7 linked regions of the Homo sapiens genome follow. The protein of the gene in region 1 purifies or fractionates together with the protein of each later gene. This does not show direct contact. Each region holds a gene or a part of one and is shown in the gene's direction. Other genes may lie near its edges.

Region 1 (3,500 bases):
TGTCATGAACTTCCCAAGTTCTATTTTAATATTGTTATTAATAACTAATAAAAATAATAGAATATACTCCATGGGCAAAAGAGCTTTACCTCTGGTTCACTGCTAGGTCTCCAGGGCCCAGAAAGTTGCCTTACTAAATGAGTAAACTATTATTGTTGTTGTTATTATTATTACAGTTAACAATTACTGTACTCTTGGCTGGGTGCAGTGGCTCACACCTGTAATCCCGCTTTGGGAGGCCGAAAAGGGCAGATCACATGAGGTCAGGAGTTCAAGACCAGCCTGGCCAACATGGTGAAAGTACAAAAAATTAGCTGGGCGGTGGTGGCAGACGCCTGTAATCCCAGCTACTCTGGAGGCTGAGCCAGGAGAATCGCTTTTACCTGGGAGGTGGTGGTTGCAGTGAGCCGAGACAGCGCCACTGCACTCCAGCCTGGGCAACAGAGCGAGACTCCATCTCAAAAACAAAACAAAAAAACAATTATCGTACTCTTACCGTGCACCAGGCAATGTACTATATGCTATGCATATCTGGGGCTCCTTAGGAGGGAGACTTACTGCATCTCTCTTTCTCTCTCTCCCTCTTTTTCACACACACATGAAACTGAGTTTCTTGGTGGTTCAATAACTTGCTAAAGCCTCAGGCCAATGAGCAAACAGGATTCAGACCTAGGCTGCAGGATTCCACGGCCTGTGCTCTGTGCACTGTAAAACACAACCTCTCCTAGCAAATGTAATTTCAGCAAGGAAAAACTTCATGAAGCACTCGACGAGTTATGTGAGTGGGCAGGAAAGCAGTAAAGGAACTTCAGGTTATGCAACTGCAAAGTCAGAGAGGCAGAGAAGACACTGAAGCACTATTAAAGCACTATTTATAGGATCCTGAGCTCAGAGTTCACAGGAAACAGATCTAGGAGTCACTGAAACCTGTGCCAGGAGATTGGCTGCAGCAGCCACACCAGCCCAGCAAGGCTGGTTATCACTGGGGCCTCCAGAACAAACGAGAATCCTCAACCCTGCCCCTGTACAGAACCACAGCACAGACCCTCCTTGAACATGTGTGGAGTTCTGCTCTCCATGCCTGTAGGGTAATTGGGGCAGAGAGCACTAATTTTCACTTACTAAACTCCTCTATGTTTCAAGCACCAAGCCAGGCACATCACATGTGTCATCAATAATTCTCACCAACAACCCTGTGAATTAAGTCATATTCTCCCCATTTTACAGATGAGAAAACTGAGACTCAGAAAAATTTATTAACTTGCTCAAGACTTCATGGCTGGGAAGAGGCAGAGCTGGATTCAGGCCAGTGTCCCTGCCTCAGAGTTCAGGAGGAGCAGGATCAAGGGACAACCCCCTTCTGATCAAGGCAGCTGAGACCCCTCAAACTGCAAAGACCAACCTAGGGGACTATGAGCAAGTCTGTAAAATCATGCAAAGACCAGATGGGGCTCCTGGGGGCTTGCAAAGGTGCTGAAAATGTGCACGGTGCTGAGCAGGTGGCGCACCTTACAGAATCTTTCTCCCCATCATCTTGTGAAGTCGCTTTTATTGTACCCACATTCCAAAGAAGGAAACTGGGTCCAGGAGCTGTTTAGTGACTTGCTCAAAAGTTGTTCTACAGATGGAGGAGTCAGATCTTCTTCTTCTTTTTTTTTTTTTTTGAGACAGAGTCTAACACTGTTGCCCTGGCTGGAGTACAGTGGCAGGATCTTGGCTCACTGCAACCTCCGCCTCCCAGGTTCAAGCGATTCTCCTGCCTCAGCCTCCCGAGTAGCTGGGATTACAGGCACCTGCCACCACGCCCAGCTAATTTTTTGTATTTTTAGTAGAGATGGGGTTTCACTATGTTGGCCAGGCTGGTCTCAAACTCCTGGCTGGAGTCAGTCCCAATCAGTTCCTTTTCCCTCCCTGCCATTTCCCTCCCTCTTAAAGTTTAAAGGACAACTCAGGACAAGCAAAAGTGAGTACGATTCTTGAAAGATGGTATAAACTCTGTCTTTGAACCTTTTTAAATTAACGTCAGACTGCTCCATGGATGGCAGGTCCTCAGTTCAGGTAAATTGCAAGGTTGAGAGAACCCCTCTAAGCTTTAAAATCCATCAGCCCTTCCCAATGGCAAACCCATGAGGGTCCCTGCCAGGCTGAAAGGCTGAACTGTGTGGCGGGACCCCTTCTGGCCCTCTCGAGTCCCCTCCAGCCATTGTCCAGGCATTGTCCTCAGGTGTGCAAAGATGGTGGCACCTTCCTTCCTATCAGACCCTTCCAGGAGGGGAAGGTGGGCTCAGATGGACCCACCACTCTGGAACAGAGGGAAAGCTGAGCAAAGTAGAGCTGTTGAGAGTTCAGAAAGGTGGGAGAGAATGGGCTGCTTCCCCTAGGACAAAGAGAAGGATCGCAGAGGGATTCCTAAGCACTGCAGTAAACAGCAGCATCACCTGGAAGCAGGGCCCTCCAGTGGGAACCAGGTCTGTCTTCAGTTTAATTTAGCCCAAGGGGCATGTACAAATACCTCACTCCTGCCCTTCACATTGTCTCTGGGGAAAAAGCATAAGCGCTGTGCCTCAGTTTCTCCATTTGTGAAATAGGAATAGTTACATCTTCCCTGCCTCCCCAGCCCTATCTGAACCTAAGAGCTATGCCCGAACACAAAAGCTGATTCTTAAATGATGGGAGCTGAACAGCAGGCTGGCAGGGGATAATGGCAGGCTGCCTGACTCCTCCCTTCTGCCCCAGGCCCTGCCCTGGAGCCATTATGTGCTGAGATGGGGGATGAGGTGCTCGGCTCAAATTGCCAATAGGTCAGCACCTATGTGGTTTAGAACAAGGCAAAATGGTTTCTAATGTAGCAGCCAAGGCTGAGGTTAGACCCAAAGGAAAAAGTGCTGCTCTAATAATGACTCAACGCAAGGCAGTGTTTGTGAGGATGCTCCCTGAATTTCTGCGTGAGAGCTTAGATGCCCAGCGGCATATGGCCTGGGCTGGTGGCCGACCTGCCTAGAGACAGAGTAACAGGTGCGATCCCAGGATACTTGGAAGTCGGCATGATCAGTCATCTCTGAGGACCTCCCATGCACTCTGGGCTGCTGCATCACCACCAGGCTCATCTCAGGAAACTCACTCCCTCCTCTCCTGCCCCATGATCTTCCAGCCCTCAGTGACCCTCTCCTTACCTGTCATGGCTGAGACATCCAAGAGAGAGAGCCCTGTTGCCAGCGCAGCAAAGGCATCAAACTGCCTATTCCAGCTGCAAGTGGAGAGGACACAGCTGCTTGCCGTTGGTTTTGGGGAGGGATGCAGGTTCTGGGGTCAGAGAGCAGAGTGAGGCTCCCTCAGAGGAGCACTGTGGCCGGGCCCCACTCTGCAAGCTGACGGCAAGCACCTCTGGGTCTCTTGGCTTACCCGAAGAACTTTCCCCACCCCCTCCCTTGGGTTTTCCCCACTGCTTATTACTGGCCTCAGCAACCTAACTGCCACCTGCCCAAGCCTCAAAGGACCTG
Region 2 (4,192 bases), on another chromosome or scaffold:
TGAAGTCATTTGAGAGAGATCTTCCACCGAACCCAAGACAAGCACTGGCCATGCCTCCTTCCCAGCATTGCCCCTGCCCTCTGTGGTCCATTCGGGACTTGCTCCATTCCCAGCCTCTCTCTCTCTCTCTCTCTCTCTCTCTCTCTCTTTGCTTTCAATCTTTAGACCCTACGTGGACCTCGTGAACTTGCTGCTGACCTGTGGGGAGGAGGTGAAGGAGGCCATCACCCACAGCGTGCAGGTTCAGTGTGAGCAGAACTGGGGAAGCCTGTGCTCCATCTTGAGCTTCTGCACCTCGGCCATCCAGAAGCCTCCCACGGCGCCCCCCGAGCGCCAGCCCCAGGTGGACAGAACCAAGCTCTCCAGGGCCCACCACGGGGAAGCAGGACATCACCTCCCAGAGCCCAGCAGTAGGGAGACTGGCCGAGGTGCCAAGGGTGAGCGAGGTAGCAAGAGCCACCCAAACGCCCATGCCCGAGGCAGAGTCGGGGGCCTTGGGGCTCAGGGACCTTCCGGAAGCAGCGAGTGGGAAGACGAACAGTCTGAGTATTCTGATATCCGGAGGTGAAATGAAAGGCCTGGCCACGAAATCTTTCCTCCACGCCGTCCATTTTCTTATCTATGGACATTCCAAAACATTTACCATTAGAGAGGGGGGATGTCACACGCAGGATTCTGTGGGGACTGTGGACTTCATCGAGGTGTGTGTTCGCGGAACGGACAGGTGAGATGGAGACCCCTGGGGCCGTGGGGTCTCAGGGGTGCCTGGTGAATTCTGCACTTACACGTACTCAAGGGAGCGCGCCCGCGTTATCCTCGTACCTTTGTCTTCTTTCCATCTGTGGAGTCAGTGGGTGTCGGCCGCTCTGTTGTGGGGGAGGTGAACCAGGGAGGGGCAGGGCAAGGCAGGGCCCCCAGAGCTGGGCCACACAGTGGGTGCTGGGCCTCGCCCCGAAGCTTCTGGTGCAGCAGCCTCTGGTGCTGTCTCCGCGGAAGTCAGGGCGGCTGGATTCCAGGACAGGAGTGAATGTAAAAATAAATATCGCTTAGAATGCAGGAGAAGGGTGGAGAGGAGGCAGGGGCCGAGGGGGTGCTTGGTGCCAAACTGAAATTCAGTTTCTTGTGTGGGGCCTTGCGGTTCAGAGCTCTTGGCGAGGGTGGAGGGAGGAGTGTCATTTCTATGTGTAATTTCTGAGCCATTGTACTGTCTGGGCTGGGGGGGACACTGTCCAAGGGAGTGGCCCCTATGAGTTTATATTTTAACCACTGCTTCAAATCTCGATTTCACTTTTTTTATTTATCCAGTTATATCTACATATCTGTCATCTAAATAAATGGCTTTCAAACAAAGCAACTGGGTCATTAAAACCAGCTCAAAGGGGGTTTAAAAAAAAAAAACCAGCCCATCCTTTGAGGCTGATTTTTCTTTTTTTTAAGTTCTATTTTAAAAGCTATCAAACAGCGACATAGCCATACATCTGACTGCCTGACATGGACTCCTGCCCACTTGGGGGAAACCTTATACCCAGAGGAAAATACACACCTGGGGAGTACATTTGACAAATTTCCCTTAGGATTTCGTTATCTCACCTTGACCCTCAGCCAAGATTGGTAAAGCTGCGTCCTGGCGATTCCAGGAGACCCAGCTGGAAACCTGGCTTCTCCATGTGAGGGGATGGGAAAGGAAAGAAGAGAATGAAGACTACTTAGTAATTCCCATCAGGAAATGCTGACCTTTTACATAAAATCAAGGAGACTGCTGAAAATCTCTAAGGGACAGGATTTTCCAGATCCTAATTGGAAATTTAGCAATAAGGAGAGGAGTCCAAGGGGACAAATAAAGGCAGAGAGAAGAGACAGAACTAAAAATACGAGGAAAGGAGAGTGAGGATTTTCATTAAAAGTCTCAGCAGTGGGTTTCTTGGGTTATTTAAAACATCACCTAAATAGGCCTTTTCTTCCTAATTGGCCATCAAATTAAAGCCTATCCTTTCTCAAGCAGGAGCTGGTATTGTAGGGAGTGGCCGGGTATTCTGGGCTGGGCTCTTCTGGAGTAGGGGGTCAGCAAACATTGTCTGCAAAGGGCCAGATACTGAATCCAGTACTTTCAGTTTGGCGAGCCGTGAGGTCTCTGTCGAAACTACTCAACTCTGCCGTCCTAGCACAAAAGCAGCCATAGACAACACACAAACGAGAGGGCTTGGCTCCCTTCCAGGAAGATTTATTTAACAGGCTCCCAGCTGAATTTCACTCACAGGACACAGTTTACTGATCTCTGTTCTAGTGAGTGGGTCAAAAAGCATATGCATCCTTATCCGTCAACTCATCAGCTCTTCCTCAAGGCAACCTGAGGCCAGACACCAAGAAACCAAGCGTATCTGCTCTAAAATGACTTGTTCCTGGGGAATGCCTTCAACCAAAACACAGCTAGTATTTCTATGCCCCAAATCCAATCCCAGTCTTTCATGATCCATGCCGGCGGTTGGGTGGGGAGGGGAATCATTGGTTGGGGGAAGGGAGGAAACCCCACCTCCAGCCCCCGCCACCGGGCTCCCTGGGCACCCAGCAAGATCTGGGGCTGCAGAGAACAGAAGAGCTGGTGCACTTAATCCAGCTCTGCCCTTGGGGGGAGGAGGACCTGTGTGTCAGGCTCTGCCATGGGAACGAGTGTAAACCGTGGCTGTCTCCTGCAGTGAGCCACCGCGGCAGGCACGTTGACTGTTTTACTGACATCACTCAAAAGCTAAAGCAATAACATTCTCCTGCGTTGCTGAGTCAGCTGTTCATTTGTCCGCCAGCTCCTGGACTGGATGTGTGAAAGGCATCACATTTCCATTTTCCTCCGTGTAAATGTTTTATGTGTTCGCCTACTGATCCCATTCGTTGCTTCTATTGTAAATATTTGTCATTTGTATTTATTATCTCTGTGTTTTCCCCCTAAGGCATAAAATGGTTTACTGTGTTCATTTGAACCCATTTACTGATCTCTGTTGTATATTTTTCATGCCACTGCTTTGTTTTCTCCTCAGAAGTCGGGTAGATAGCATTTCTATCCCATCCCTCACGTTATTGGAAGCATGCAACAGTATTTATTGCTCAGGGTCTTCTGCTTAAAACTGAGGAAGGTCCACATTCCTGCAAGCATTGATTGAGACATTTGCACAATCTAAAATGTAAGCAAAGTAGTCATTAAAAATACACCCTCTACTTGGGCTTTATACTGCATACAAATTTACTCATGAGCCTTCCTTTGAGGAAGGATGTGGATCTCCAAATAAAGATTTAGTGTTTATTTTGAGCTCTGCATCTTAACAAGATGATCTGAACACCTCTCCTTTGTATCAATAAATAGCCCTGTTATTCTGAAGTGAGAGGACCAAGTATAGTAAAATGCTGACATCTAAAACTAAATAAATAGAAAACACCAGGCCAGAACTATAGTCATACTCACACAAAGGGAGAAATTTAAACTCGAACCAAGCAAAAGGCTTCACGGAAATAGCATGGAAAAACAATGCTTCCAGTGGCCACTTCCTAAGGAGGAACAACCCCGTCTGATCTCAGAATTGGCACCACGTGAGCTTGCTAAGTGATAATATCTGTTTCTACTACGGATTTAGGCAACAGGACCTGTACATTGTCACATTGCATTATTTTTCTTCAAGCGTTAATAAAAGTTTTAAATAAATGGCTTCCACTTGAGTAGCGTCATTGTCTGAGAGGGTCATTGATGTCCGGTGCACAGGGGGACAGCTGTGAGCAAGTGGGCTTTTACGTCAAGAGAATCCTATGCTTCTGTGGATGTTCAGCCTACAGGGAAGGAAGTTAGATGAAGAGGACTACCCTAGGCTTCTCCGTCAGAGGGACCCTGTCCAAGCCCCTGCCTGAGTCACCCAGACAAGGAGGAGAATAAATTTCATGCAGTTGGCCTGGAAGTGCCACCCCCACACCCCATTAGGCAGGTCCTTAAGGCTCACTCTGGTCTCACCTTTGAGTCTCCCCTGTGAGTCTCCCCTGTGGCTTGGCCACCCCTTCTCTCAGACTGAGCCTGCAGCAGACACCACCAGCTTAACAGCTGAGTGGCCTGGCATATAGAGGGAAGCCCACTGCCTCCTCCCCAGCTCTTGCTCACGACAGCAGAACAGAGCTGGAGCCCCTGGTTTACGTGATCTGTGCCACTGTTGGTGTACCT
Region 3 (3,500 bases), on another chromosome or scaffold:
ACTCCAGGTAGGAAGTCTGTTCAGCCACGGCTGGGCTGTGTGCGGGGCAGGGAGCGTGGCTGAGGAGCAGACAGCAGCGGGCCGGGCTGGCTGCCTGGTGAGCAGTTTGGTGCCTCGGGTGTTGTGCATGCCCGGCTCAGTATTTCCTCTGGGATGCCAGTCCTGGAGTGTCTTCCTCAGAAGGTGCCGTGTCCCTTAGTGGGGGGAAGTACTGATCTCACTTGGTGTAGAGGGTCACAGGGACCCCCCGAGGGTGCTGAGTGGCCTGCTACTGGCACGCAACCTGCCCCCGTGGGATGAAGCCCCACCGCGTAGCTTGACCTTAGAGGGGACCCCACTCTAAGCATCCTTTTTTTTAAACAGAGCCATCTAGATACAAAAGTCAGTTTCTTAAGATGCCTCTCACTGAGCACAACACCAGTGTGATGAGTGTATAAAGATGAGGGGTCCTTGCAACAAAGCAAAGCGTAGCCCATGCTGGAAGAGGGCATCTATCCCCCTCTTCGGGTCTGCGCAGTGCTGGCCTTCCCTGAGCTGTGGGGAGCCAAGCCTGCCTAGCCCAGCTTCTCTGGCCTCAGGAACTCTGCCCTGTCAACCTATCTGGGCTCACGTCTGCTTCTCCACACACAGTCTCTCGGGGATGCCTTGCTACTGGGAGAGCCTCTGGAATCAGAGCTAGTGTGTTGGTGCCCTTTTCAGAGCTCTGCTGTTCCTTTATAAATCCTAAAGAACTGAGTCTGGGGAGAGGAGAGGGGATGCCAGCTGCTGCCTCTGACTTCAGGGAGAAGCAGACTTCTTAATACTGTCTTACGTGCTCGGTGTGATGGCTTCTTGCAAATTATTCTCTTATAAAAGAGCTCGGCAGGAGTGGCATCAGTGAGGCTCCCAAAGGATGAAATTTTAGCCGCCAAGTTCGTATTCATTTTCTGTTATTCTTTACCTTCTGTTAGTCACACTATTTTATAACATTAGGGAATCTAAAATAATTCCTGTCAGGTCCCTGAAGGAATGAAGGCTAACATCTCCTTTGGGGAGAGCTTAGGACCCTTCAAACAACACTCATGTCTGAGCGGCCAGATTCCTCCTCCAGGCCCCATTTTCCCTCAGGAAACCAACCTCTCAGATGGTTGGAGGAGAAACACTGGGCTGTTGCTTCTTTGGGGCAGCAGGAGAATGACTTTGGCTTGGAAGGCCTCTGCCATTCATCTCTACAAAGCCAGTGGGGTCCGGCAGAGAAAGACCGTGGAATAGCTGCGGTCTCGATGTGGCTGCTCTTTGGCACCTCCGCTGGACTGCCCTCCCGCGGCGGTGACCTTTTCAAGTGTGGAAGGGAGTGGGTCGAGTGGACCAGATGCAGACCCCTGAGTTCTGGATACTGATGGGAGGCCTCACCCTCCTTTACGGGGCCTCTCTGGGTGGGACAGAGCCTCACCTGCTCCTGAGCAGCCACTGGTGCCCCACGGTTCCTCTGAAACTAAATCCCTAGCATCCAGATAGTCCTGGGACACTCTGCCTGCTCTGTAAATGAGGAGGGCTTTTCTCCTGCTGTTTGGAGGTTCCGTCCCTTCACTGCTTGTCCCATATGCGTCAGGCAAATTCAAAATCATACATTTAAACTCTTAGGAAAACAAAATCTTAAGACTTACACAGATATCGGGGTGCTAATCAACTGGCTTAAATCTTGATTCTTACATAATTTGAACTTGAAAGGTTACATTGAACTCTGTTCTTTCCTCCCTCCTCACCTCACTCCCTGCAGGGAGTTCAATGCCATGTTGAAGTGGTTGGCATCCCCAAGTGGGAGGGAGTGGGGCATCTTACCATCTTCTAATGTGACTTCAAGGAACAGTGCAAATGTTGAATGCAGAGCTTCACACTAATACGGAACAGTAACTGTGAGTATATTTACCTGTGCTGTCGTCAGCACTGTACACTAAAGGACCAGCTTTTCCAAGCCTAGGAAAATAATGGTAGATACAAATAGAAATACATTTTCCCTAGGAAATAGAGCAATAGGAATTTGAGCTAAGCAGGTACCATGAACTTCTGCCCTCAAATTCTCTCTTTGGGTTGAGGAGCAGACCTGTATAGGCCCTGGCTGATCAAGTCTGTGTCCTGCCTAGTAAAAACACACAACCACCTCTGTCATCTGAAGGCCAGCCGGGGATCTGTAGCCATCCTCGCCTTGCCTAGGCCCAGGAAGGTGAGGTCTCCTGGGCAACCAGAGTTGCCCCTGTGGTTCCCCAGGGGTGATCCTAGGCAGATGACTCACCCGGGCTGGCACAGGAAGGTGCTCACCTTGTTCTCTGGGGCTCCAAGCAAGAGCAGGCCAGGGAGGGCTGGCTTTGCACGCTATGTAGCATGACCCAAGCTCCCTGGTGGCATGGGAAAAACTCCCCTCTGCTTTTGAGCCCAGATATGGGCTTTTCTTTGCAAAGGGTTGAGGAGAAATACAAGACTGAGCTGGTAGGTTAGGGTCCAGAAGGCCTCTGAGGTGCCATTGCTTACTTCCTTACTGAGGAAACTGGCTCTTGTCCTGGGCCATGTAGTTCCATTCTGGGCTCTAGGCTAGTGGTGCTTCTGTCCATCAAGGGTATCTGGGTGAGTTGTAGGTTAACCCAGAATTTAGTAGGGATATAGGGGTTTGAATAGGAAAGTGATCTGGGGATTCAGAAATTTTTCTGATGTATCAATGAGCAACTTCTCAGTGGATTTTTATACCTCAGGGTCATTTGCAAATCTTTATCTTTTCCTATTTCTTAGGTGTTCAAGTTGGTTAATAGGAGAGAGACGTTCAGAGACTTCTAAGTTGAGGTTCATTTGCCTCCGTTTGAGGGGTGAGTGGTGCACCAATAGCTTGCTGCTGTTACTTAGCAAGGCTGTGACAAGTAGGCCTTCCTCCTCTAGCACTTGCAAGCTTTCTGTCTGCGATCACGGTTTACTTGCCCATTTCCCTTTTGCTACCTTCTTTCCTATCTGGAGATTCATATTCTAGAGTCCCTGGTCAACCCTACGGATGCGAAGAAGAGATGGCAGTTCACAGCAACTGCATAGAGTAGGGAGCAGCTTTCCTCCCACCATCCTAGGCTGGGGACCTTCTTTGCTTCTCACACCACTGTGGTTGGCTCAGCTCAAGTAAGCACGTTCTCTCTGTATGCTAGAGCTACTGACATCATCTCTACTAGAATTGTTTTAAATATCTTTTGATGGGAAATACCAGGTTGAACTTCAAGCATCATGGAAACAAAGGTTCTAGCTGCAAGAGAGTAAAGTTCTAGGTGTTTGTATGCCAAGGTTTATATGTACACAGATCCAACACATACTGTAAGAAAGACTTGAGTACACAAGGTTTTCAGGTTTTAATGCCCATTGGGACCGTGAACAAATGAGAAGAATGGGAGCATTGTCTTGCCTCGCTTGGAAGGACGCCTTCCGGCATCTGATCCACATGGATTCACTTTTAGGATGCAGTTCTTTGGGGGCCAGATTTGGCTGCAGAT
Region 4 (4,037 bases), on another chromosome or scaffold:
AAAGAGGTCAAGCCAGGCCCTCCAAGCTGATTCCAGATGAAGCCCATATGGATCTGGAAGGAGACTGGGCTGGAAAATGCTCTCCTGGGTTTCGCTGTAAGATGCCTACAGGCCTAAGGCAAAAGGATGTGTCTCCACTTTCAAGAAAAGCTGGGACCGCCTGGGCAGGGGCTGCTGAGCCCAGGCAGCGAGACCCCACGTCCTTCAGGACCGCAGTTCCCCATTCATTTGAAGAGCAGTTTCTGTATTTGTCATTCTCTCAGTACAGTTTGGGGGGTGGTTACAATGTTCAGGGAAATGTTTTAACAGCTCAACTCTGCATCTGAAAAAAGAGGGGCCGTGCTCCCCTGCTGACCCGTTAGAGCGCAGGGCGGCCAGCACTCCCGCAACTGCAGCAAACCCAAGAGTCCCTATGAGGAGGGACCCCAGGAAACTGCTTTTCAATCTCCATCTGCTCCCTGAGGTGGGACGCCGGGTGGGGGCCGGGCCAGGTGACTGCTGCCCTTGTCCCAGCTGCACCTTGCCCTGCCACGCTGGCCGTGCTGCCAAGCGGATGTGAACGCCGCCACCTGACACCCACCTCGCCTGCCCCCGGAGCGTCCCTGGTGACAAGGCTACTTCTGGCACCCAGGGTGGGGCAACCCAGCCCCGCCCAGACACACGCCCCAGTTGGCCTGCGCGCCCCCACGAGTCTCCCCGCAGGGGACCGAGAACACCCTAAGAGCCAGGCTTTCTGCCAGGTGGCCACTGGTCACTCGGGGGCGGTTCCGGCGGCCCTTTGCGTGGCCACCGGCCTGGCACGGGCGCATCCCCGCTGGTTTTACGCCCTTGGGGAGCTGTGGTTCTGCGCGCGGGAGCCTGTGGCTGCCCCGGCAGCGGGGGGAGGGGGCACCGGGCGGGGCAGGAGGCCCAGACCATGGGGGGCAGCGCCAGAGCCCGAGCCACCGGCAAGCCATGATGGGGGGGTCCCCTGGGACCGGGAGGGTGGGAGCAGAGCGCCAGAGCCTCGGTAACCTGGCAGAAGGCTGTGGGGAGGGAGCGTGGAGGGGAGGTCCGGGCCGGGTGACCCAGGGCGGGAAGGGGGGGCCGTGTCGGGGCGGGGTTGGGGACAGTGGCGGGGCGGGGCCTGGTGAGGGGACCGTGTCGGGGCGTTGTTGGGGACAGTGTCGGGGCGGGGCGCCGCACCTAGCCCTTCCCTGCCGCGCGCTCCTCCCCCACGCCGCGCCCCGCCCCGCCCAGCCCCGCCGCCCTCGCAATAAGGGGCCTGAGCGCGCGGGGGAGAAGCGGGAGCGGGAGCGGGAGCGAGCTGGCGGCGCCGTCGGGCGCCGGGCCGGGCCATGGAGCTGTGGCCGTGTCTGGCCGCGGCGCTGCTGTTGCTGCTGCTGCTGGTGCAGCTGAGCCGCGCGGCCGAGTTCTACGCCAAGGTCGCCCTGTACTGCGCGCTGTGCTTCACGGTGTCCGCCGTGGCCTCGCTCGTCTGCCTGCTGCGCCACGGCGGCCGGACGGTGGAGAACATGAGGCAAGGCCGGGGGCCGCCGGGAGGGGCCGGGGAACCGCCGCGCCGCTTCCGCTTCCCTAACTTTCTTCTGGGCTTCCCTCCTTCCTGCCCCGCCCGTCCCGCCCCGCTCCGGGGCTCCGGGGAGAGCGCGCCTGGGCCGGCGGCAGGCACAGGAGGGGGTCCCGGAGTCAGGGGGTCCCGGAGTCACGGGGTCAAGGAGCCGGCGTCACAGTGCCCAGCACCCCACCCCCCGCCCTGGCCCCGGGCGTCTACACCGGTTTCGGCCTCCGCCGCGTCCCTGCAGCCCGGCGTGGGGTTCCGGGGGTGGAGCAGCTTTCGGAGAGAAAGGGGGCCGGTCCGCGCTGGGAGAGGCTCAGCCCTGCTTCCTGAGCGGGGAAACCGAGGCCGGGGCGGCGGGGACTTGCCCCAGGGCTATTGATCAGGGCGCACGACGGCGTGGGGGCACCCCTCGGCCTCCCTCCGACCCCCTCCTGACTGTCCGCCCGGTGATGGGCGCACCTGTGGGGCGGGTTCCCCTTTCTCTCCCTTTCCTCTTCGCAGGGAGGTGGGGGACCCGGAGGGGACCTGCTTCCGTGCTGGGGAGCGCGCCCCTGGCCTACAGCTCCGGGGGCCCAGCTTCCAAGCGAAGGGAAGGAAGAGTTAGGACTAGGGTTCGGCGGGGCTGAAATTTTCCCCTGGACGCCTTCCAGAAGGTGGGAGCTTGGTTTTGCCAGGCTGGGGTTGGGGGCCAGAGGTCAGACTGGGCTGCCAAAGACGGCGGGGGCTGCCTGCTCCTGGGCGGGGTGGCTGCTGGAGAAGGCTCTTGCCTGCCCCCTCTCCCTGTTAGCCGTCCCCAGGCTGTTGCTACATTTCTCCCTGCCCTGTTTGGACTGCCCAGCCAGTGGCTTTTGCAATGGCCTGGGGTGGGGGCATTGTGGCCCCAGAGGCCCCCTTCCCCGTGGTTCCAGGGGCAGTGGGTGAGGGTTTGCTAGCTCCCTGCACTCGCTGTCCTTGCCAGCCCTGGGAGGGCACTGAGGCTGCTGGAACGGGCCTACAGTCATGGCTTCCAACGGAGCCCCAGAAGCTCCAGGAATATGAAGGAGGACCCTGGGCCTGATGGTGAGCATGGAGAGTCCGAGAAGGGCCTGCTGGCTGCTCAGCCAGACGTGTGTGACCAGTGGTGATGTGGGCCAGGTGGCCCAGGCCGGGGTCCCGGGGAGCGCACACTCCAGGGCTGGCCCAGGTGGTGACTGGCGCTGACGTCCCCAGTGGAGCACCCTTCAGCGAGGAAGGCAGTTTGCAGAAACAGGGAGTTCCTGGGGGCTGGGCTCTGGGCACCTGTGCTGGAATCTGTGAAGGCCTCACCTGTGGTTCTGGCCCTGGGATCCCCTGTAGGCAGGGGTCTCTGTGAGGGGCCCCCCTCAGCCCCTGGGGTGCTTCAGAGTAGGGGCGAGGGTGCGGCTTTCCCAGCTGAGGAGGGGCCAGTCTGTGGGTTCCTTGGGGTGCCCCCCACCCCGAGGAAATGGCTTGTGTGGTTCTGATGCCTGCAGGGCATCCTGTGCTGGGCGTGTCCTGGGGTGTGGACAGGGGACGGGGTCCTGTTCTTTTGGCAGAAATGATGGGGCACCTGACTTAGGAGACCCTGGAGCAGACCCCACTACTGAGCCAGGCCACAGGCCACGGGCCTCTTCATCGGCGGCCTCCTCGTGTGAGAAAGCCTGGCTTGTTCTGCAGGGGCCTCTGCCTGGACTTCCTAGCTGTTTTCCAGGGACCAAATCACAGTTCACCTGCTGCCCTTTCTATGGACCTGGCAGGCTGGGTTGGCTGGCACTGGCCCTGCTGCCCCACTGGGCCCTGTCCCCATCTCAGCTTGGAGATTCTGGCTAACCTGGGTGTCCTCGGGACCTGGGGCCTCTGATGGTGCTTGGATGGGACCCTCCTGCCGCCCTCACCTCTCCAGGGCAGCACCCAGGCTCAGGCCTGTGGAGTAGTGGCTTCCGGGACACTGGCTACTAACAGCAGGTGCTTTGTTCCTGCTTTGGTCCCTGAAGAGAAGGGAGGGCCAGAGGGCAGGGCAGTCTGGAGGAGAGGCCTGGGGCTCCATGGCTACCTTCCCCCACACCTCTGCACGTGCTCCCCAGGCCCCAGGGTCCCTGATGACTTCCAAGACTCCCAGCAATGGCTAAGAGTGGGGCTGTTGCGAACGTGCGTTCCCTCCGTGGGGGCCGTCGGGAGGGGTGAGAAAGGCAGATGAAGAGCAGGCGCTTTGTCACTCCAGGGAAGGGACCCGGGGGGCTGGAAGGGAAGGAGGGGATACTCGGCCTCTGTTCCTGCTGTACGCCACGGGTGCCTCCAGCCTCAGGAACAGGGATTCGCGTGTGCTCTGTGTTACAAATAAGGACACTGAGGCTGAGATAAGCAACTTGAAACTGGGGCAGGGTCCCCAAGCCAGGATGGGGTGGAACTGGGGTTCGAACCCACTGACAGTGACTCCAGAGTACCTGCTTTTCCCTTTCCCCTTGTTCCCAGCCCAGCGCTT
Region 5 (3,500 bases), on another chromosome or scaffold:
TGCTTCGCTACTGCGCCACATTTTAATTTTAGTAAATCCTTCTGACTCCACATTCAAAGTATCTTCAGAATCTAACAGATTTCCCTGGCTTCCTCTGCCTCCACCCACGACTAAGCTATCTTCCCCCACCTGACTTATTGCCCCCAGACTCCCGAAAACCAAACAGGTCTCCTTGCTTTCACCCTTGTTGCCCTGGGGGTCTGTTCACAACACTCGCTGGAGTGGCTGAAACACAAGACAGGCCTCTAGTGGCTTCCCACCTCGGTGAAAGCCAGAGTCCTTACCGTGGCCTCGGCTCCAGCGTTCTTGCCTCCTTGCTGCTTCTTGAACATGCCACACATCTGTCTTGGTACCTGCTAGTTATTGCCTTTGCCTGGACATTTTCTCAGATAGCTGCAAGTCTTGCTCCCTGTCTTCTCTTTGGTTTTTCTTTTTTAATTTGAGGTGGAGGCTTACTGTCGCCCAAGCTGGAGTGCGGTGGCGTGATCTTGGGTCACTGCAACCTCCACCTGCCGGGTTCAGGCAAATCTCCTGCCTCAGCCTCCCGAGTAGTGGGGACTACAGGTACGTGCCAATTCACCTGGCTAATTTTTGTATTTTTTAGTAGGTAACGGGGTTTCGCCGTGTTGGCCAGGCTGATCTTGAACTCCCAACCTCAAGTGATCTGCTCGCTCGCCTTGGCCTCCCAAAGTCCTGGGATACAGGCGTGAGCCACCACACTAGGCCTTTCCCTTTGGTTTATACTTAGATGTAGTCACCTTAGTAGAGGGGTGTCCCCGGAATAGAATTTTCCATCCCCGGCCTTCTGTCTTTCTCATTGCTGACAATAAGTAGGAAGCAAGCTAACAAGCAGCAGGCTACGGCTGCCTACAAGTGTACATAGGTATCTGCCTGTCCCCCTAACTGGGCATCAGCTCCAGGCCAGCAGGGCTTTCCCCTCTCTTTCAGTCACTGCCGTGTCCTCGCCTAAGAGAGTGTCTGGCACACAGTAGGTGCTCAGTGAGTTACTCATTGATTAAAAAGCCTGGAAAACCAGGCTGTGTCGTGAAGATAATAGGCAGCCACTGAGGTCTTACTGCATGAGAACAAGGAAAGCTCAGCTCAGTGTAGATTGCCGGACCTAAATTTTGTGGAATCGCCTTTCATACCTAAGAGGCGAGCACCGTTGCCAGCTTTGCACTTGGAGCCCCCTCTGTCATTTATTTTGTTGACTTAAAAGCTGTTTTGTGAACCCAGCATAATGGCACTTCTTAAACTTGTAGAAAAAGGGTGTTTCTTACCTGTTTATTTCAACACATCTCGTTGCCTCACCTGGAGAGGCAACTCTCCTCTGTAGAGTGAAAGACTATAATGGTGGCCATGTAGAAACTAATATTCCAGAAGGAGAGAGCTCCAAGAAGGGGATTCCAGTGAACCATATGTACACTGTGTTTGAGAGACATTAGTTCCCCACGGAGAAGGGATGGATAGTCTGTGCTTCGGGGGTCTAAGGAAGGCTTCCTGCAGGTGCTGGTACCTCCTTAGGTCTGGGGTGGTTCCTTCTAAGTTTCCTTACCCTGCCTGCATCACCTCTGCCTCTTATGACCTCTGTGCAAAGACTGGGAAGGGTCACCCCCAATGGCTGTGAACGAACCTGTTTGTGATTCTAAACAGGGCACGGGACCATCCTACAATAAAAATTACCCAGCCTAAAATGCCAGTAGTGCCAGTAGTCCCTGTTTAGAAAAAGAAAAAAAAAAAGCAACTTTTGCCTCACAACAGAGGCCCTCTTGTGTGCTGCCAGGCAGCCAGCAGATTTGCTATGCAGGCAAGTTTGGGGCCTGGTTTTTAAAGTATCCAGTTCCTAGATTCCAGAACTAAAATACACATTTGGAAAAATGATGTCTATAAAATTGAGTTTCCGGGAGTGCAAGGTTTATAGCAATTTGACACTGCTGGGAACCCAGGCGCAGTATCAGTGGACTTTTCTCCTTGAACAGGGGGCAGACCAAGTGGGGGGTTGGGGAGGGTATTGGGCTCACTCTTGGTTTCCCTTGGTGTGAGCTGCCACCATTCACATGCAGAGGACTCACCTGTGTTTCCTGCGGGTTGGGGGTAATGGTGGCATGACAGAGGGCTTGAGGACTGACCTAGCTGCTTCTCCGGAATTGGACGCCTGCTGACTACCTGCGTGTATCCAGATGGCCATTGGCCTGTGGGGGTGCAGGATGGAGGCCCTGCCCACATGGAGCTCACTGTCCTGGGTGGGAGTGAAATAAACTCTAGGTGGCAGAAGGAAGTGGTGCGTTGGATTATCACCTGGGTGCAAACGAGCTGGCAGCAGCGCCTGCCAGGTGCAGAGCCAGGAACCTCTAGGCCTTCAGTCTGACCACCTGATGGCAGGGGAAGCAGAGGGTGGTGGGGGGCCTTCATCTCAGGAGAATCTGAGTGGCTGCAGGTGCCAGTCAGGACGCTGGGCTTCTGCAGATGGGACCACATCTGGGAGGACCGAAGGGCCGGGTGCTTATGGGCTGTTACTGTGGCACTGAGCGTGAGGGGAGTGGACAGGACCCAGGCTGAGAAGTGCTGGTGTGCAGTGGTGGCAGGTGGCTCACACAGCCCTACCATAGCGCAGCCCTGCTCTGAAGGCCACTGGAGCCATTCAGAGGTCTCACAGACAAGTAATCAGATCCAGCCTACGGTAAGGAGAAGTTCTGTATCTGAGATCTGAGGCAGGGAAGCCAATTAGGAAGCTGCTCAAAGATGAAGGCGGCGTCAGCGCAGGTTCCGTTGCGTGGTGCAGCCATCTCTGGCTCTCACGTTTCCCACACATGTTCACTAAGCCCCTGTCTTGGCAAGCCATACCCTAAGCCACAGAGGACCAGGATTAAAATCAGTGATTTTCAGGGAGGGGTAATTTCCCCCACCTCATTCCCCTGAGGGATATCTGGCAACGTTTGCAGACATTTTTGTGCCACTGGTATCTGAAGTCAGGGTTGTGGCCAAACATCCGACAAGGTACATGGCCGTCCTTCCACAAAGAACTGTCCAGCCCCAAATGCCAGGGGTACCAAGGTTGAAAACTCTGGTAAAGAACCTTCGAAGGCACCAGGTTAAGTGCTTCAAAAGAACAATGCCCTGGGTGCTCTGGGAATGTGAGGGAGGAGCCAGCTGTGCCACAGAGCGGGGACAGCTGCTGGAGAAGTGCCACATTTGAGTTGGGTCTTGAAGGATGAATAAGAGTTCTCCAGGAGGAGCGTTGAGACACACGGCAGAGGTGGGGAGAAACCAGGCAGGAAACAGCATGTGTACCTGGGTCCTCTCAGCCCCACTGTGGCCTCCTGTGTGTTGCTTTTGGTACATTTCTTGCCCTGTTGGAGGTAACGGGAGGGATACTGAAGCCATCTTTGAGGTAAGAGAAGAGGTTTAGCCTCATGCGTAAGACTACTGGAGAGATGGCCTTGCCCAAGAGTAGTTGGAGATGCTTCTTTGGAGAGTGACCTCCACCTTCTGCAAGGCCC
Region 6 (2,241 bases), about 47 Mb from region 1:
GTGTGCTGAGCTGGGGTGCAGGGTGGCAGCGATCAGGTGCATTCGGAAGCGTCACCCAGGGAGCCAGCGGGAGCTGGCTAGGAGAACCCGAGAGGGTGAGGGAGGCCTGTCAGGAGCTGTGGACGTTGCTCGGGCAGGAGGTTGACCTGGATGGGATGAATGTATCCCTTCCCCTTGGCACGCGCCATTGCAAGCCCTGAGAACCTGGGCTGGGAGAGATGCCAGGGCCATGGGCTCGGGGTGGTTCTGAGGACAAGGAAGCCCTTAGCCCTGCCCATGACCCAGGCAGGAACAGCCCCAGCCGCAGGGAAGGAACAGCCCCAGCATTGAGGAAGTTGCTGAGCAGCTCCCGAGCACCCCCTGCTGCATCTGCGTGGAGTGTGATTTCCCCGAGGTCCATGGGGGCCCCAGGAGGGCCGGGGGTGGTCAGCGGCTGCTTCTGTCTTGCAGGCCATCTACGTGATTGACTTCTTCTGGAACGAAACCTGGTACCTGAAGACCATTGACATCTGCCATGACCACTTCGGGTGGTACCTGGGCTGGGGCGACTGTGTCTGGCTGCCTTATCTTTACACGCTGCAGGTGAGGAGGTGGGCAGAGCTGGCCCAGCGGGGCATTTGGCAGACACATGCTAAGCTTTCTCCTTGCAGAAGCGTCTGTCCTTGGGGGCACCAAAGCTGCCCCCTGTTTCTAGGAAGAAGGGAAGGCCTCGTGTATTAGCCAGCTCAGCCAGCTTGGGCCAGCAGCCAGGGAGGTGGCCTTGAGTATGTCCCTAACATCTGCAAAGTAGGGCAGATGCCGGCTCAGGGCTGGATGGGGCAGTGGAGGTGGAGGTGGGTCAGTGCGGGCACTGGCAGGAGGGGTCCTCTTCATTCCTGCCTCCTAGGATGTGCTGGGCACTGGGGCAGGGCTGCCCTGGGAGTTCCAGGACAGTAGGGGATAGCAAGTGGCCTTGTCATTGGCATCAAGCCCCCCACTCCCCTCCCAGCTCAACGAGAGCAGCCCTGCTCTGATTTGGGGAGAGTGCTGGGCTCCCAGGTAAGGTGGCTGCTTGACCAGATGCCACCTGCCCATTTCAAGAGCAACGAGCCCCCTGGGGACAGAAATAACTCACCCCAGGGCACTTGCTTAGCAGAACGGTGGGGTGGCCTGCCCCAAGAGGCTGTGCCCAAGTGGAGAGAACCAACGTGGAGAGGCTGTCACCTATTCAGGATGTGACAGGCCCGGCATCACCTGTGACAGCCAGTCCTGTGGGATGGAGGTGCGGGTGTCCTGGAAAACCAGGATTCCCACAGCAGAGGGGGCCAGTACCAGGTGGAGGGTGCAGAGCCCCAGCTGGCCCCATGCTCACACCAGGTCCTTGGAGCCCCCCGCATGGCCCACCCGGCCCCATTTCTCCACCTGGCTGGCTGCAGGTCTGCTGGTTCCCTGGTTTTATAAACTCCATTTTCCAAGGATGTGAAAACGTAGCAATAGGTCCCACTATATAATAGCTCTTACTTGCTTTAGCCTCTGTGTGTGTCTCGAGATGTACATTTTTTATACTATATATTAGGTTTCTCCCAAGAAGCAGAATCAATAGAGGGGTGGAGGGTATACGTGTAAGAAAGAGATGTATTTTTCAACTCATGTGATTGAAGAGTGACAAGTCCAAGATCTTCAGGGCAGCCTGGAGCCCCAGGGAAGAGTTGATGCTGTGCTTAAATAGAAGGTCACTTTTTTTTTTTTTTTGAGACGGAGTCTCGCTCTGTCACACAGGCTAGAGTGCAGTGGTGTGATCTTGGCTCACTGCAACCTCCACCTCCTGGGTTCAAGTGATTCTCCTGCCTCAGCCTCCCGAGTAGCTGGGATTACAGGTGCATGCCACCACGCCCAGCTAATTTTTGTACTTTTAGTAGAGATGGGGTTTCACCATGTTAGTCAGGCTGGTCTCAAACTCCTGATCTCGTGATCCGCCCGCCTTGGCCTCCCAAAGTGCTGGGATTACAGGTGTGAGCCACTGTGCATGGCCAGAAGGCCACTTTTTAGCAGATTCCCTCTTCTTTGGGGAAGGTGGGTCTTCTGTCTCTTAAAGCTGTCAACTGATTGGATGAGGCCCACCCCCATTGTGAAGGGTCATCCACTCTGCCTGGTTGACTGATTAACATATGAACCTCATCTGAAAAATGCCTTTACAACTAGTGTTTGACCAAATATCTGGGAACAATGGCCTGGCCAAGTGGACACGTTAAATTGACCATC
Region 7 (3,500 bases), on another chromosome or scaffold:
GCTTAAAGTCCACGAGTCAATGAAAGGTATTGAGAATCTACCTAGCAGGGGCTGTGTTTGAAGCTCATCCTGCTCTCTAAAAGCTTATACTCTTAGTGGAGGCTGGAAGGGGAAGAAAGGCAAATAAATACATCATAAATCTGTAAGATAATGTCAGCTATTGAAAAGGTGACGAATATAAACTGGGGCGAAGTAATGAGGAATAACGGGGGGTAAAAGGAATAATGGGGAGGACGCTGGCCACGGCAGGCCTTCTCTGGGGTTATGACATTTGCATAGAGACCTAAATGATGAGGAAGAGCCTGGGAAAAGCTGGGGAAAATGGTCTCAGCAAGAGGAAGAGCAAGTGCAGAGGCCACGAACTAGACACAAGCCTGGCACGTCCAAGGATGGGAAGAAGGGCAGGGCAGAGTGTAGGGAATGCGGGGACCAGACCACTCCAGGCTTCTGTCGGCTGCGGCTAAGGAAGGACCTTTGGTTTTGTCCTGGTTATGATAGAGAGACACAATATAGGGTTTTAAAATAGAGGAATGACATGATTCAACCTACCCTTTAAAACAGGGGTCAGCCGGGCGCAGTGGCTCATGCCTATAATCCCAGCACTTTGGGAGGCCGAGGTGGGCGGATCATTTGAGGCCAGGAGTTCAAGTCCAGCTTGGCCAACATGGTGAAACCTCATCTCTACTAAAAATATAAAAATGGCTGGGCACGGTGGCTCATGCCTGTAATCCCAGCACCTTGGGAGGCCTTGGTGGGTGGATCACGATGTCAGGAGTTCAAGACCAGCCTGCCCAAGATAGTGAAACCCCGTCTCTACTAAAAATACAAAGATTAGCCAGGCGTGGTGGCAGGCGCCAGTAATCCCAGCTACTCGGGAGGCCGAGGCAGGGAATTGCTTGAACCCGGAAGGTGGAGGTTGCAATGAGCCAAGTTCGCGCCACTGCACTCCAGCCTGGGCAACAGAGCAAGGCTCCATCTCAGAAATATGTACATATTTATATATAAAAAATAGCCAAGTGTGGTGACGCATGCCTGTAATCCTAGCTACTTGGGAGGCTGAGGCATGAGAATCTTTTAAACCCAGGAGGCAGAGGTTGCAGTGAGCCAAGATTGTGCCACTGCACTCCAGTCTGGGTGACAGAGCGAGACTCTGTTTCAAAAAAATAAATAAATAAAAATAAAACAAGAGTCCTCTGGGTGCCGTGGCTCATGCTTGTAATCCCAGCACTTTGGGAGGCCAGGGTAGGTGGATCACAAGCTCGACTTCAAGACCAGCCTGGGCAACGTGGTGAAACCCCGTCTCTACCAAAAATACAAAAAAATTAGCTGGGCATGGTGGCGTGCATCTGTGGTTCCAGTTACTCAGGAGGCTGAGGTGGGAGGATCGCTTGAGCCTAGGAGGTGGAGGTTGCAGAGAGCCAAGATTGTGCCAGTGCACTCCAGCCTGGGTGACAGTAAGACCCTGTCTCCAAAAAAAACAAAAACAAAAACGAGTCAGCACACCTACAGCCCATGGGCCGAATCTAGCTGTGAGGCTGTTTTTGTAAATGAAGTTTCTTGGCGTTGCAGCTGGCTCCATTTGTTTCCATGTCTGTGGCTTTTTTTTTTTTTTTTTTTTTTTTGAGACAGGGTCTCACTCTGTCACCCAGGCTGGAGTGCAGTGGCGCAATCTCGGCTCACTGCAACCTCTGCCTTCCTGGTTCAAGTGATTCTCCTGCCTCAGCCTCCTGAGTAGCTGGGATTACAGTCATGTGCCACCGCACCTCGGCTAATTTTTGTATTTTTAGTAGAGATGGGGTTTCACCATGTTGGCCAGGCTGGTCTCAAACTCCTAACCTCAGGTGATCCACCTGCCTGGGCCTTCCAAAGTGCTGGGATTACAGGTGTCAGTCATCGCACCCGGCCATGTGGCTGCTTTCATGCTGCAATAGCAGAATTGAGTCATTGCAGCGGTGACCATTAGCCCACAAATCCCAATGTGCTCACTCTCTGGCCATCCACAGAAAAGGTTTGCCAGCACCTGCTTCCTAAGGTTCACTGAAGTTGCTTTGCCAGGAGGGGAATGGAATTGAATCAGCCTGAGTCAGAAGACTGATTAGAAAGCTGTTGTGAGGTTGTCCAGGCAAGAGACAGGGTAGAGCAATGGGAAGGGGGAGCGGAGCAGTGGTCAGTGTTTGATCTGAGAGAAAGAGAAGAATTGAAGAAGCGTTCTGGGTTTGGGGCCTGGGATGATGGATGGTGGTACCATTGACTATGATGGGAAAAGTTGTGTGTATGTGTGTGTGTGTGCATGCACACACACGATGTGGCTCTGTTTATACCATGTTAAGTTTGAGATGCATCTTGGCTGTCCAGCTGGCACAGTTGAATATACACATCAGGGAAGAGGCTGGAGCAGAAGGTGTAAATGTGAGAGCCATCAGTGCGTAGAAGGTATTTTAAGCCATAGGGCTAAACGAGTGCACATCAAGAAGAGGGCTCCCCTAGGCTGAGCCCAGGCCCAGATCCCCAGAAACTAGTCCTTGCCCCAACACGGGGGAGCTCCCTGAGACCTCCATACCAGTCCCCTCCTTCACCACCTGCCATGGGAACCCCTGAGCTTTGGTTTTCTCTCCTCCCAGGCTTACCAGAACTGGGTGAAGAAGAACGGGGCTGAGCACTCGCTCCCCACCCTGGGCCTCACCAATAACCAGCTCTTCTTCCTGGGCTTTGCACAGGTGAGTCCATTAGGAAAACATGCCACACATGGTACATTCTGCCATCTTGATGTTTCAAGAGCCCAGAGAGCCGAAAGGCAAGTTCCCCACAGATTGAGAACTTCCCAAGTCACTGGACTGTGCACAGCACATGTGCCCTGTCATTAGAGAGATGCACGGAAGGGCCCAAAGTACCAGTGAAGGGATTCCTGGATCTGGTGAATGAGAAGACGAGGTGATCACCCAGGGCCCTTCTGGTTCTAGGGTTCTAGAGGTTTCTTAAACTTAAGATGACCAGCCAGGCACAGCAGCCCACGCCTATAATCCCAGCACTTTGGGCGGCCGAGGCAAGTGGATCACCTGAGGTCAGGAGTTTGAGACCAGCCTAGTCCACATAGTGAAACCCTGTCTCTATGAAAAAATACAAAAAAAAAGTCAGGCATGGTGGTGGCTGCCTGTAGTCCCAGCTTCTTGGGAGGCTGAGGCATGAGAATCACTTGAACCTGGGAGGCAGAGGTTGCAGTGAACCAAGATCACGCCACTGCACTCCAGCCCGGGCAACATAGCAAGATTCTGTCTTGCTGTGATCATCCCAGATCATCCCTTCAGTCGGCATTCATCTGGTAGCCTTCTGCTGGCACTCAGAGCTACCAGGCCATTAGACAATTTGTTCTGCCCAGGAAATGAGAGATCTGGACTAAATCCAAGCTTTTCCAACTGGTGTTTGGACACAGTCCTTTGTTCAGATGGAATCGAATGCAGTTGCCTCAGAGATGCTGCGCTGGCTGAAGGAGAACAGTTTGG

What was found.
Region 2: the proteins of TMPRSS4 (region 1) and STC2 purify together in Homo sapiens (affinity purification with mass spectrometry, with the first as the bait; one large-scale study listed by BioGRID). This does not show direct contact.
Region 3: the proteins of TMPRSS4 (region 1) and CNNM2 purify together in Homo sapiens (affinity purification with mass spectrometry, with the first as the bait; one large-scale study listed by BioGRID). This does not show direct contact.
Region 4: the proteins of TMPRSS4 (region 1) and AGPAT2 purify together in Homo sapiens (affinity purification with mass spectrometry, with the first as the bait; one large-scale study listed by BioGRID). This does not show direct contact.
Region 5: the proteins of TMPRSS4 (region 1) and WDR1 purify together in Homo sapiens (affinity purification with mass spectrometry, with the first as the bait; one large-scale study listed by BioGRID). This does not show direct contact.
Region 6: the proteins of TMPRSS4 (region 1) and DHCR7 purify together in Homo sapiens (affinity purification with mass spectrometry, with the first as the bait; one large-scale study listed by BioGRID). This does not show direct contact.
Region 7: the proteins of TMPRSS4 (region 1) and ECE1 purify together in Homo sapiens (affinity purification with mass spectrometry, with the first as the bait; one large-scale study listed by BioGRID). This does not show direct contact.

The regions. Positions count from the first base shown.
Region 1 is NC_000011.10:118,083,578-118,087,077, forward strand, and holds part of TMPRSS4 (transmembrane protease serine 4), read left to right. Parts: intron 1-3,173; coding exon of another isoform or gene 3,174-3,180; exon of another isoform or gene 3,181-3,386; intron 3,387-3,500. UniProt on the Homo sapiens protein: Plasma membrane-anchored serine protease that directly induces processing of pro-uPA/PLAU into the active form through proteolytic activity.
Region 2 is NC_000005.10:173,314,223-173,318,414, reverse strand, and holds the end of STC2 (stanniocalcin-2 precursor), read left to right. Parts: intron 1-165; coding exon 166-568; 3' UTR 569-3,692; downstream 3,693-4,192. UniProt on the Homo sapiens protein: Has an anti-hypocalcemic action on calcium and phosphate homeostasis.
Region 3 is NC_000010.11:103,078,794-103,082,293, forward strand, and holds part of CNNM2 (metal transporter CNNM2), read left to right. Parts: 3' UTR 1-3,500.
Region 4 is NC_000009.12:136,684,658-136,688,694, reverse strand, and holds the start of AGPAT2 (1-acyl-sn-glycerol-3-phosphate acyltransferase beta), read left to right. Parts: upstream 1-1,237; 5' UTR 1,238-1,337; coding exon 1,338-1,519; intron 1,520-2,498; exon of another isoform or gene 2,499-2,617; intron 2,618-4,037. UniProt on the Homo sapiens protein: Converts 1-acyl-sn-glycerol-3-phosphate (lysophosphatidic acid or LPA) into 1,2-diacyl-sn-glycerol-3-phosphate (phosphatidic acid or PA) by incorporating an acyl moiety at the sn-2 position of the glycerol backbone.
Region 5 is NC_000004.12:10,110,300-10,113,799, reverse strand, and holds part of WDR1 (WD repeat-containing protein 1), read left to right. Parts: intron 1-3,500.
Region 6 is NC_000011.10:71,436,153-71,438,393, reverse strand, and holds part of DHCR7 (7-dehydrocholesterol reductase), read left to right. Parts: intron 1-450; coding exon 451-582; coding exon of another isoform or gene 583-590; intron 591-2,241. UniProt on the Homo sapiens protein: Oxidoreductase that catalyzes the last step of the cholesterol synthesis pathway, which transforms cholesta-5,7-dien-3beta-ol (7-dehydrocholesterol,7-DHC) into cholesterol by reducing the C7-C8 double bond of its sterol core.
Region 7 is NC_000001.11:21,220,964-21,224,463, reverse strand, and holds part of ECE1 (endothelin-converting enzyme 1), read left to right. Parts: intron 1-2,621; coding exon 2,622-2,717; intron 2,718-3,500. UniProt on the Homo sapiens protein: Converts big endothelin-1 to endothelin-1.